Homo sapiens: one gene and its partner. The protein of the gene in region 1 interacts with the protein of each later gene in a biochemical or structural test. Each region holds a gene or a part of one and is shown on either strand. Other genes may lie near its edges.

Region 1 (5,396 bases):
GATCTTTGGTGGCCAATCTTGGTTACAGTTTGCTGAAGGGAGGTCTCCCTACATTTGCTATGTAGATGGGGGCTCCAGTCAGCATTGTCAGCTGGCTCTGCCTTTGGGGCTCCAGGATGCCAGCTTACTTCCCTTTCTTCACTCTGCCTCTCAGGCCCCACATCTTAGCTGAGGCCGACTCTGGTAGCCAAAGTACCAGAGCAGGGCTGAGTCATTTTGTAGGAGGGAGCACCAAAGACTGAGTGGAAAAGTCAGGAAAGTTGGCCCACGTTACCCAGGCAACTGTGAACCTCTCAACCAACTTCCTCATCCTCTTTGACTTCTCTTAGGTTTTCATTTTGGCCTTCAGGCTGCTAGCTTAACGATTATCAGGTCTGAGGAAGCCTTAGCTTTTGTTCCATTGTTGGTGTTATGGCCACCACTGGGGGAAAGCAGAACCAAACTCATTGTGGTGGTGTTTGCGGGGCTAGTGTTTGAGGCCAAGTGGCCATTGCCTGTTTTTTTTCCAAAGGGTTCAATGTGGAGACAGTGGAGTATAAGAACATCAGCTTTACAGTGTGGGATGTGGGTGGCCAGGACAAGATTCGACCCCTCTGGAGACACTACTTCCAGAACACCCAAGGTATGCTCAGGCCTAGCGTGGGTTGGTTGGGTATGAGCAGAGAGTGTGGCTGTCTTTGTTAATGGGTGGCCAACTGTTACCCTGCTGCAGCTCCTGGGGGCAGAAGAAAGGGAGGAAAGGGAGCAAATATTTGGAGGGTGTCAGGCAGGTGTGGTCTTTTGGTTGGGGGGAGGGGGTTACCTGTCATCTTAGTGCAGCCCATGCTCTGCCTTCCTAGGGTTGATATTTGTGGTCGACAGCAATGATCGGGAGCGAGTAAATGAGGCCCGGGAAGAGCTGATGAGAATGCTGGCGGAGGACGAGCTCCGGGATGCTGTACTCCTTGTCTTTGCAAACAAACAGGTGAGACTTCTTCCCACCCCTGAATTTGGGAGACAGCAAACTGGCTGTGGAAATTGTTGGCTCTTGGGCCTATTATATGGTTAACCCTTTTAGTATGCTCTCAATGTTAGAAGCGTGGGAAACTGAGCACTTGGCTTCTTTATGCCCCTCTTCTTGTGCCCCACCCCAAGCTTTATTTAGCAACATTTCAGTCCTCAGGAATTGTCTCAAATCTTTCTTTCATCTTGCCTGTTATCTACTTTAGGAGAATTGGCCTCACTCCTGCTGTCAGACAGACCTGATTCTTTGGTCAGTCTGAATCACGTCTCTTGCTTCCCCACCATCCTCGTATTTGGTTTCCAATTCTTCAGTACAGTGACCTCTAGTGCTTTGGATCTTGAGTTCTAGGTGACTAAATCCAAAGTAGCTCCTTAGGATCTTGTTCTGGGTTTCCTAAAATAAAGGAGGAGGGGAAGGTGCTGGTACACATTTCTTTGGTAGATGGGTGTTCTAGAAGCCTTTAAAAAATCCTGAGGCTTCTTTTTATGTGTCTCCCACGTGCTCCAGGATCTGCCTAATGCTATGAACGCTGCTGAGATCACAGACAAGCTGGGCCTGCATTCCCTTCGTCACCGTAACTGGTACATTCAGGCCACCTGTGCCACCAGCGGGGACGGGCTGTACGAAGGCCTGGACTGGCTGGCCAATCAGCTCAAAAACAAGAAGTGAAAGCCAGACAGCCCTAACAAAGCACCCCACCCACCCCTGACATACCTACTGTCACCCTGCCCCAGTCCTACCCCTTCCTCTCCATGCAAGTGTGGCCAGGGCCCTGGGTATCATGTCCACATGCCCAGCAAGAGCCTTGCCTCCCCTGCCTCCCCTCCTTTTTCCTGTCCACCTATATGACCAATCCCTAATTGCTGTCCTGATGATGAGTCATTCCAATTTACTGGATTTAAAACAAAAAGTTGTTACGGTTTCATGGGGTGGCCCCTCTCTCTCTCACCCTCTGGGTTTCGGGAGGTCGAGTGGGGTATTCTCTTTGTTTGGCAGTGGTTGCTGTCCTCTTGGCATCTGAGTCCTTTCCCTGTCCCCACAAGCCCTTCTACTCCCTGTTTGCCTTTCCTTTGCCACCCTCTCCCTGTTTTACATGGAAATTGCACGGGCCTCTCTGTGTTTGCGTGCATGTGTGCGCCTGTATATACATGTATAGAGAGATATATTTGTGGGGGCCGGGGGGAGCGGGGAGGGGGTGGAGTGAAGCTCAGGGCTTGCAGCCAGGACACTGCCCACTGGAGCCTGTCATCTGCCCCTTCCGTGTTGGTGAGATTAAGGGAAGAAGGTGGGAGGGCATTAGTCAAGCCGGACTGCCCCAGTCTTTGACTGGTTACCCTCCTCTCTGCAGGTAGGTTTTTCTGGATGATAGGACAGATGATGGATTCTTCACCACCATTTTCCTTGTACTCTTCTCTCCACCCTTCTTAGGGCTGGAGGATGGCATTTATCTCTAGATGACTGTTCCCAAGGAGATGCCACTCTGCTCTGCCTTACTGTTGGGAAGGAGAGAGGAACCCACTCACTCTTATCAGCTTAGAGTGTTCAACTGATCCTTCCCCACCATCTTCAGATCTGTTCCTCTGGAGCTTGACTGGGGGGTGGGGATGGCAAGTCCATGGTGTGTGTTAGGGACCCAGGGCATTGGGGGAAGGGAGGCGAAGGCCTGAGGTTTTCCATCTTCATTCTCTTTTGTTATTAGGAGAAGGTGAGGCATGGGCCAATCCCATTCCTGCCTTCCAGTGCCCCACCACCCTTCTGATCTTAGGGGTTGGATGGGTCATCTGTCCTTGGTCAGAATTTTCTCACCCTAGTACTCCTACTGGCCTGACCAGGGCTGACTGGGTATTCTAATGAGGAGCTGGGAAGTGGGGTGACATAGCTGACCTTAGTATCAACCCCCCTCTTCTCCAACTCTTGTTTTCTAGTCCAGGATATGCTAAAGGACGAAGATTTTCTATTGTTTCCAGGCCCTCAGACCATCCTTGCTGTCCCTTCACCCTCCATGCCCCTGCCATCCTCACTCACTTCTCATAAATGGATCTGGGGGTTAGAGTGGAGGAAATAAAATCCTGAAGTGGTTGTCAGTGCTTGTGGGATGCAGTGGTCTTCAGGATTCTCCCCGCATTATTATGTAGTTGTTCAGAAGCTGTTGCTACTGCGTCTCTCTGTCTGCAGGGGGCACTTGTTCCTGAGGTCCTCGCCTGGGTCCTGACTTCTGTAGTTTCTGTGAAGACGTGGCTGTCCTGTGGGCTCCTGTGTGTGCTGGCTGCGCCCTGAGCTCCGAGACAGCTGCCCATAACCTGCTAAGGTCAGGGCCCAGGGCCCCCCACAGCATGGCTGAGGGACCCCTTCCCAGTAGGGCTGTCCCAAGCCCCACTCCATGGGGCCAGGTTTCCTGGCCACTTTTGTTGATAGCAGATGGATCAATATTAGTAACCCCATCCAAGATTGAACTGTGAAAGAGAGGTTCCAGGGGTATCTCCCTCAGTGCCAGTTACTTAGTGATGTGTTACCCAGGATGCAGCAGGTGTGTGCAGGTATCTTGCTCTCTAGGCCTGTGTGTGTGTGTGAGTGTGTGTGTATATGGGTGTGGGTGTGTTTGTGTGTGGTGGTTGTGGGGGGGGTGTTGGAGGTTCTATTTCATTTAAAAATGTATTCATTTCCCTGGCCCCACAGATGCTTCCCTCCATACTTTTTATTTGCTCTGTTTCCTCAGATTTATTTTGTCTTGCCCCATTGCCTCTCCTTCCTTGAACTCTTTCCTTTTCAATCTCAACTCATTCACTGCTGTTGCTCATTTGCCCTTTTCCATGTATTTTTTCCTACTTAGGATTTTCCACTCTATCTTTGTGGTTCATGAGGACTTTGCCTCTTCTCCTGCCTCATTCCCTGACTTTCTCTAGTTAGATGTCAGTCCTAAATAGGTTTTCCTCACTTCAGGCCTCACCCCTCACCTTGTTTTTTTGGGGGCTCCAGGGACCAATCTGGGGCTGGAAATGTTAGGAGGTTGCCTTGGTGCTGCCCCAGATCTGTCCAGCAGGGGGCAGTAAGTGATCTTGGTAGTATCCCTGGCTGCTAAGCCCTTGGCAGGGGTGGTCCTTTCTACATTCCCATTCACTTAACAGCTCTTTTGGGATTGGGTGTTTCATTCCATTTCTGCCCACTCCCTCTCCTCTCCTCTCTGGTAGGTTTAATTTTATGCTTTCCCTGATTCCAGCTTTCTGCTTCCTGAGGACTCCCGCTCCCCCCACCCCAAAGTTTGTCTGTGGTGTTATAGTGGTAACTGCAGTTCCTCCTCTGGAATGTAGACTGTATATGTTTAATAACTCACCTTCTCTATCCTTGCTCAAAATGTGGGATAACGCGATGACTGTGACCCTGGTTGGAAATTAAACTTGTTTTATGCAGCTTTGGAGCCGACCTTCATCTTTGCTGTGCAGCAGCCGTGGGACAGTAGTTTCATGGTGAGGGGAGTCCTGTTTCTGGTCCCTCTCTCCATAGTGCTCCTTCTTTCAGCAAAGGGGTAAAAGGCACACTTGATTGATAGAGAGTAAGGTTATGGAGGAACTTAGTGCCACTCCACACTGGTTATTTCTTCCCATCATACCCCGCGGCGGGGGAGCCCAAATGAATTGGGCATCAGAGTGTGAGGGCTTCGTGACTTTCCTCCTCTAGTTCTAAAGGGTTTAAACCTGAAATCAGCTGTATTTCTCACCTGTTGGTAGACTGTATGGACTTCACTGGCTGAAGGGCCCTGAACTTGGAGGGCCCCATGTGCCTCTACTCTCAGATCTCCTCAGCCTTGCACATGAGGTGCTTCTAGTTTGAACAGAGACCCCCTCACTAGTCTAGTTCTGGACTTTGGCAGTGAATAAACATGAAGGATAAACGTCTGGGCAGTGTAATGACCTTAATCCTTCTTACAACTGATGGCCCTGCATCAGCTCTACTTCAGGCGTGTGGTTTTTCATTGTCAGGATGCCAAGCCTCATCCAGAGATCCCACAAATGTCTTGAGGAATAGACCTTTTCCATAAAGCCTCCATCCTCCCATCGCACTCCCACCACTATTCTGTTCCTCCCCTGCTACCAGTGTCTGGCTCCAGGCAAAGAAAGGGATGGTGCTACCTTTAGGGTGGGTGAGGTCTGGGTGAGCCAGGCAAGCCTTCCCCAATCTTAATATTTTCTTAAGCTTTGAGGACAGAGGTCTTCCCAGCCTGCTTTTGTGGGAAAGGGATAGGATTTAGGCATATAATAAGTTTGAGAGCCCCAAGTACCAGTGTGAAGCATATAATTTATATTCAGTTACTTCCCTGCTGCCTCCCCTGCCAATTTTCCTTTTCAGCACTTCTATTATTAATAGGCCATCACCCTCAAGGACCAGTGCTTCCACC
Region 2 (7,000 bases), on another chromosome or scaffold:
CACGCCTGTAATCCCAGCACTTTGGGAGGCCAAGGCAGGCGGATCACGAGGTCAGGGGATCGAGACCATCCTGGCTAACAGGGTGAAACCCCATCTCTACTAAAAATACAAAAAAATTAGCTGGGCGTGGTGGTGGGCGCCTGTAGTCCCAGCTACTCGGGAGCCTGAGGCAGGAGAATGGCGTGAACCCGTGAAGCAGAGCTTGCAGTGAGCCGAGATCGCGCCATTGCACTCCAGCCTGGGCGACAGAGCGAGACTCCGTCTCAAAAAAAAAAAAAAGAAATGATTGAAGCAATTGGGTGAGATAAGATAATTCATAGCGAATGGAGAGGAACAAGCTGAGAGCAGAAGCTTGAGGAACAGCAAGCCCTTGATTATTAGCTTGGGATGGACAGAGAAGGGTGATAGCTAAAAGGGATTTGAGGGATTATGAAATGATGAAAAAATACACACACACATTATATATGTACATTAGAAGATAGTAAAGACTTGAGTTTATTCATATGCTGAAGAGATGATGTTTAAGTCCAGTGGTGAGAAATGGGGCCTTTAGAGCTGCCTCTACCCTGGCCCAAAGGACTCTTGCAATTTGTCTGAATCATTTGAATTTCATGAGAGTGGACTGTGTGTGTGCTGTCTGTCAATGTCTACCCAGTGCAGCTTACCTACTAGGTGTTCATAATAAAGTGGTGATTATTGGCGGAGCAAGATCCTGGAAGAGGCAGGAAAATCTGAATCTAGATCCAAGAGGAAGGATTAACTTTGATGGGACAAGAGCTGGTTTGGGAAGAAAGTAAAAACTTGAAGTTTTGGATGCTTTGGGGAAAAGCTAGAAAGGACTGTTAGTGTTAATATAGAGTTAGGGAGTGAGAGAGAAAAGGAGATTGTAGTTGGGGCATATGGCAGAGGCTCCAGGTTTTTAGAAGTGGTACACTTCTGAGGGATAGGGTTTGGGCTGTCAGCTGTAATGGAATAGAGATAAAGATTTACTGGAGCTGGGACATTGGGACCCTGTGACTACAGCATATGAGAATGATTGTTGTTCTCATGGACACCGAAATAAACCAGGGACTGGCATGTAGGAGGAATATTTCAAGGCAATAAGGAGGAACTAGGAAAATGTTGCTAGCCTCTCCCTCTGTTTACCATACTTGTAGAATGTCAGCCTTTAGAAAACAAGTAGCTTTTTTTTTTTTACTCCAAAAGGCTACAGGGCTGCAGCAAGAGATAAATGGTTAGGTTGCAGGGCTGTGTGCCATGGATGTAGGGTGAAGCCTATGGACCCTTCCTGGTATAGTATTTCTGAAGGTATAACACAGAGAGGATTACAGAGGAAACCAATTGCATTGAAATGTGTTTTAAAAGTATTCTTAAGTTTGTCATACAGTAATTATGTGCTTCTTTATTAATACCTTAAAGACACAGCAGCAGGTCTGATTAAATAAATGCAGTGTAATGATGAACATAAATATCTTGATGAGCAACAAACTGTAACATGCTATAAAAATATCTGTGATTTGTATTGATACCAATTACAGGTACTACTAATGCTGTGGTTTTTGGCCTGCATTCATAATTGAAGGAACTAGTGAATTCCAGTTGGTTTGGTAAAAAGTAAATAATGTAATTTATTTTCCATCTAAGTATGCAGACACCCCATCATGTTCCCCCGGACAATATAGACCTCAGGTTAAGAACCCCTGACCACTAGGGAAAGCTATCAATGGATTATTTTGTGAGAGATTTGAAGATGCAGGGAAATCTGTTAATAACATGAGTTCCTGAGAGCACAGTGGAAGAAGAAAGAACATTAGGAGTTTGGGTCAAGGAACGTAAATCATGAATCATGGAATATTACAGAGGTACAGATGAGTTCTGTATTTTGGGAGGTGTATCCAAGATCCTCCAAGGAGGCCAAGGGTGAAAGCATAATCGAGTTAGCTGACCTCAATCAAGGTTTCAAAATGAACTCATTCTTATGGGGTCTAATCAGATGAGAGCTGCATTCTTGAAAGCTTGATTAGACTGTTAGACTTGCCTTGGCTCAGAAATCCAAATAAGAGTGGTCAGAAGTAACAAGTATGCCACCTAAGAAATCCTTGCTGAGATGTAGAGGGGACAGAGTTAGCTGATTCTGAAGACACTTGACTGTTAGAAACAACAGGAGAGCCCCTCTAGATGCAGCAAGAGCTTCAGACTCTTGCATGCTTCTTATGAGAATCTAATGCCTGATTATCTGAGCTGGAATGATTTCATCCCAAACCACACCCCTCAAGCCTCAACCCATCTGTGTAAAAATTGTCTTCCATGAAACTGGTCCCTGATGCCAGAAAGTTTGGGGATCTGCTGCCTTAGAGAATATATTTTATTTATTTATTTTTTATTTTATTTTATTATTTTTATTTTTTAGCCACATAAAAGGTAGCAGCACACTTATTTGGAAAACAATAATTTCAAAATCATCTCCTGAACTCAGAATCGATGGGTCAGGGTAGACACCCTAAGTAAACAGGTGAAATCTTCATTAATTGTTCACTTATTAAGTAAAAATTTAAATTAATTGATTATGTACAGCAGTGTTTTTCCACATTTCCCTGATAAGAATCATTTGGAGTACTCTGTAAACACAGCTTCACTGGAGATTAATCCCATCAAATTGATTTAGTGGCTCTGGGATGGGCCACAGTAGTTTGGAAATTTTTATTTTTACAAATGCTTCCTGATGATGACCAAATCCAAGGAAATTTGGGAAACACTGATCTGGAACATAACTTTCAGTTTTCCCTGCAGTTTTTAAGTCTTGAACGACTGATCATCCTAGAGATAACCCACTGAAAAGTCTTCTCCAATCCAGTTTTATGAAAGAAAACTCTAGAACATTTGGTTTGATAAAATTTTTCCGAAGCACCAGAAGTACTTTACTTTGGCTTTTTAAATTTCTGGTCCATCCCTTCTAGTTCATGTTTTCTTGAAGAATCCATCTTCTTTGAGTTGAGCCACAGCAATCTAATCTTTTTTTTAAATAATTGGTTTCTTATTAAAGGATTGCGACATTTAATAGCCGTTGCTTGCTTTTGTCTTTCTCCCTTCTCCCTGAAACTTGTTAAGAGATGCCTCAATATTCTGGCCTTTCCACCTTCAATCTCATACTGACCACGCCGTGTATGCCAGCCTGGATCTCATAGTTTTCTTTAACTGGTTCAACTCCCTTTGTTGTCCTGGTCAAGATAACATCTCCTTCTTCCAAGGTCATGATCTTAGAAACATAGTTGATGATGTAGGGGATGGAAAAAGTCATGGAGGATGTCTCACCCTCCTGTCTTGAGTTCGCCGTTGACCTTGAGCCAGAGCCTCAGATTGGGAGGATCAGGGATCTTCTCCTTGGGCACGAACGCGCTGACTGGGCAGGAGGCCATAAAGCTCTTGGCCAGAGTCCAAGGCAGCCCCTTCTTCTTGCACTCATCCTGCACGTCCCTGGCAGTAATGTCCAGGCACAGGGCATAGCTGCTCACGTAGTCCATAGCTGCGCGGCCATGCTTGCCCATCACCATGCCCAGCTCCAGCTCGTGGTGCAGGTTGCAGCTGTACGCGGGCATGAGGATGGGCGAGCCCTCAGGTGTGTAGGCCGTGGACAGCTTCAGAAACAGCACGGACTCGCTCAACACCGCGTTGGCATCTCCCTGGTGTGGTCCCCATAGTTCCTCCCCACACAGACGATATTCTTCCCCCACCCCCAGAAGCGGGACGGTGGCCTGGGGGTCGCCATGATTCCTGTCAATTGCCTAGAGAATATATTTTAATATGAGGATATTAAACATCTCTATATAAGATATTCCTTCAGAGAATTTAGGATTTGGAAGAAACCTTATAGTCATTAACTGTAATGTTGCATTTTGTGGAAAATCCTGTTGGTAGAATCCCTGAAGGATGGCTGTTTAACCTTCCCAGAAATACTGCTATTGAAAGAGAGCCTGGACCATGCATAGACAGCTCTTTATATTGAGCCACAAAAATTTGTTATTTATAATTTCTATCTAGTAGTTGTTTGAAGTTGAGATTTTATAGGCAAACAGAACACACTTTAGCTACTATACTGTTGTTCTGAAATGGCGTCTATGTATTTTTTTCTGTCAGGTAATATTAATCAGTCACTAATGACGCTAAGAACATGTATGGATGTCCTAAGAGAGAACCAAATGTATGGAACTAACAAGGTAAGCAGCAGCCTTCTCTGTTCTTTTGTATAGTTTCATTTGTGTGCATTTTTTTTGCGTAACACATTTGGATATGAATGTCTTTGTAGATGGTTCCATATCGAGATTCAAAGTTAACCCATCTGTTCAAGAACTACTTTGATGGGGAAGGAAAAGTGCGGATGATCGTGTGTGTGAACCCCAAGGCTGAAGATTATGAAGAAAACTTGGTAATTTTAATGTATTTGTCCTATAAAGTCTTGAGTTTTTGTCGGGAAAACAGTTACTTGGATGAGCAGAATGACATTTTGAATATTTTAAAAATGGATAGAGAACCATTGATTGTAGAAGTAAACTAGGCTTGGTGTGGTGGCTTATGCTTATAATCCCAACATGTTGGGAAGCTGAGGTGGGACGATCAATTGGGCCCACCTGGGAGGTCGAAGCTGCAGTGAGTCGTGTTCATGCCACTGCACTCCAGCCTGGTGACAGACTGTCTCAAATAAATAAAAATAAGCAATCTTTGCTTCATTTAGTAATTTCTGGGACTTGGATATCCTTATTTTTTTTTAAACTCCATTTGTTTTGTGTTTTAGCAAGTCATGAGATTTGCGGAAGTGACTCAAGAAGTTGAAGTAGCAAGACCTGTAGACAAGGCAATATGTGGTTTAACGCCTGGGAGGAGATACAGAAACCAGCCTCGAGGTCCAGTTGGAAATGGTATGATTTGGTGTTGTATCATTTGTCCACTCATTGGTCTGTCTGTTTCTCTCTTTTTTAAAAAAAATTATTTCATTTAAGAGAAATGTTTACATACCTTCTGAAGAACCAAGCACATAATAATTTGAACAAAATTTAAATGAGCTTATTTTGCATACTATGATTCTTAGGTAAGTAAACTTATGTCAGCTCAAGAAATTGCAATGGTTAGTTGCACTGGGGCTGTATGCAGTGTTAAACTTGTTTAAATAAGCTCTTTCTCTCCTATGTAACTTTTTGTAATTTTCTATAATTCAATACAGAACCATTGGTTACTGACGTGGTTTTGCAGAGTTTTCCACCTTTGCCATCATGCGAAATTTTGGATATCAACGATGAGCAGACACTTCCAAGGCTGATTGAAGCCTTAGAGAAACGACATAACTTACGACAAATGATGATTGATGAGTTTAACAAACAATGTAAGGGCAAAACTATTTGAAATAATTTTATTTAATTATTTTTTTTTTTTGAGACATAGTTTCACTCTGTACCCCAGGGTGGAGTGCAGTGGCACAATCTCGGTTCACTGCAACCTCCGCCTCCTGGGTTCAAGCGATTCTCCTGCCTTAGTCTCCCGAGTAGCTGGGACTACAGGCACATGCCACCACGCCTGGCTAATTTTTGTACTGTTAGTAGAGACGGGGTTTCGCCATGTAGGCCAGGCTGGTCTCAAACTCCTGACCTCAAGTGATCCGCCTGCCTCGGCCTCCTAAAGTGCTGGGATTACAGGCATGAGCCACCACTCCCAGCCAATTTGCAATAATTGTAACTTCTGAAATTGAAAGTATTTTCAATGAATCTGAGTTATATGGTAGATTGCATATTTAAGGAAGTTAAAGAAAATTGTGTCTTTAGAACTTTGAAGCACTCAAGGCATTGTTTGATTAGTATGACAAGGCATTTTTCCACAGCTCTTTTTTGTATTCTAAGGAAGTCAAAAAGAAAAAAGTGAGCGTGTGTTCTTTCTTTTGTTTTTTACAGTGATGGAGACACAAAGAAATATTTTTTAGTTTCCCCTGTCTACATAGTGGGGATTGTAATTGTTTCTACCTCAGGATATGTTGTGAAGATAAATAAGATAAAGTATGAAAATCCTGTAGAACAGTAAATTCTGGTACATAGTGAATGTATCTCAGTGAATGAATGTATCTACTTTTTTTTTTTTTTTTTTTTTTGAGACTGAGTCTCGCTCTGTTGCCCAAGTTGGAGTGCAATGGCGCAATCTCGGCTCACTGCAACCTCCGCCTCCTGGGTTCAAGCGATTTTCCTGCCTCAGCCTCCTGAGTAGCTGGGATTATAGGTGCACACCACCACGCCCTGCTAATTTTTGTATTTTTAGTAGAGACGGGGTTTCACCATGTTGGTCAGGCTGGTCTCAAACTCCTGACATCGTGATCCACCCACCTTGGCCTCCCAACATGCTGGGATTACAGACGTGAGCCACCATGCCTGGCTCTACTATTTTTATTATCATTATTCATTTGAATCTTTACCAAAAAGTTGTGAGATAAAGTGGTATTTAAATTTCCATACTGAAATGAAATTTGCCCAGAAATATTAATTAACTCGCCTAAGTCATAACTAGTAAGTGATGTTCCAAGGATTTCAGCTCAGGTTTAATTAATCCCAAATAGTAGTGTTGTTTCTATTTTTGCGTTTGTTGTTGTGAAGCAAAGTACCTGTAAGGATTGGGAAGAGAATGCTATAGTGCACAGTGAAAGACTTGAGTATTTTTTCAGCATTTAACAGAAAGCTTCTGTGAATATCTTGTCAACTGGAGAATGAAGCTCCTGATTTCCCTCTAAACTTGTTTTCTCATTATAGACTGATTCTCACAGAGATTTGCTGAATAACTACATTTTATCTAGTGTCTGCTAGCAAAAGTTGATATCATTGTTTGTTTTAGAACTGGTGTAAAACTTGACCTGTATGTTTTTGTTTCAGCTAATGCTTTTAAAGCTTTGTTACAAGAATTTGACAATGCTGTTTTAAGTAAAGAAAACCACATGCAAGGGAAACTAAATGAAAAGGAGAAGATGATCTCA

The links.
Region 2: the proteins of ARF3 (region 1) and KIF23 form a complex in vitro, tested with the Homo sapiens proteins (one study listed by BioGRID).

What each region holds. Positions count from the first base shown.
Region 1 is NC_000012.12:48,935,223-48,940,618, reverse strand, and holds the end of ARF3 (ADP-ribosylation factor 3), read left to right. Parts: intron 1-511; coding exon 512-622; intron 623-839; coding exon 840-964; intron 965-1,510; coding exon 1,511-1,672; 3' UTR 1,673-4,880; downstream 4,881-5,396. Other genes in the region: peptidyl-prolyl cis-trans isomerase FKBP11, read left to right, coding at 4,881-4,965.
Region 2 is NC_000015.10:69,431,349-69,438,348, forward strand, and holds part of KIF23 (kinesin-like protein KIF23), read left to right. Parts: intron 1-4,134; coding exon 4,135-4,214; intron 4,215-4,303; coding exon 4,304-4,423; intron 4,424-4,789; coding exon 4,790-4,913; intron 4,914-5,215; coding exon 5,216-5,374; intron 5,375-6,899; coding exon 6,900-7,000.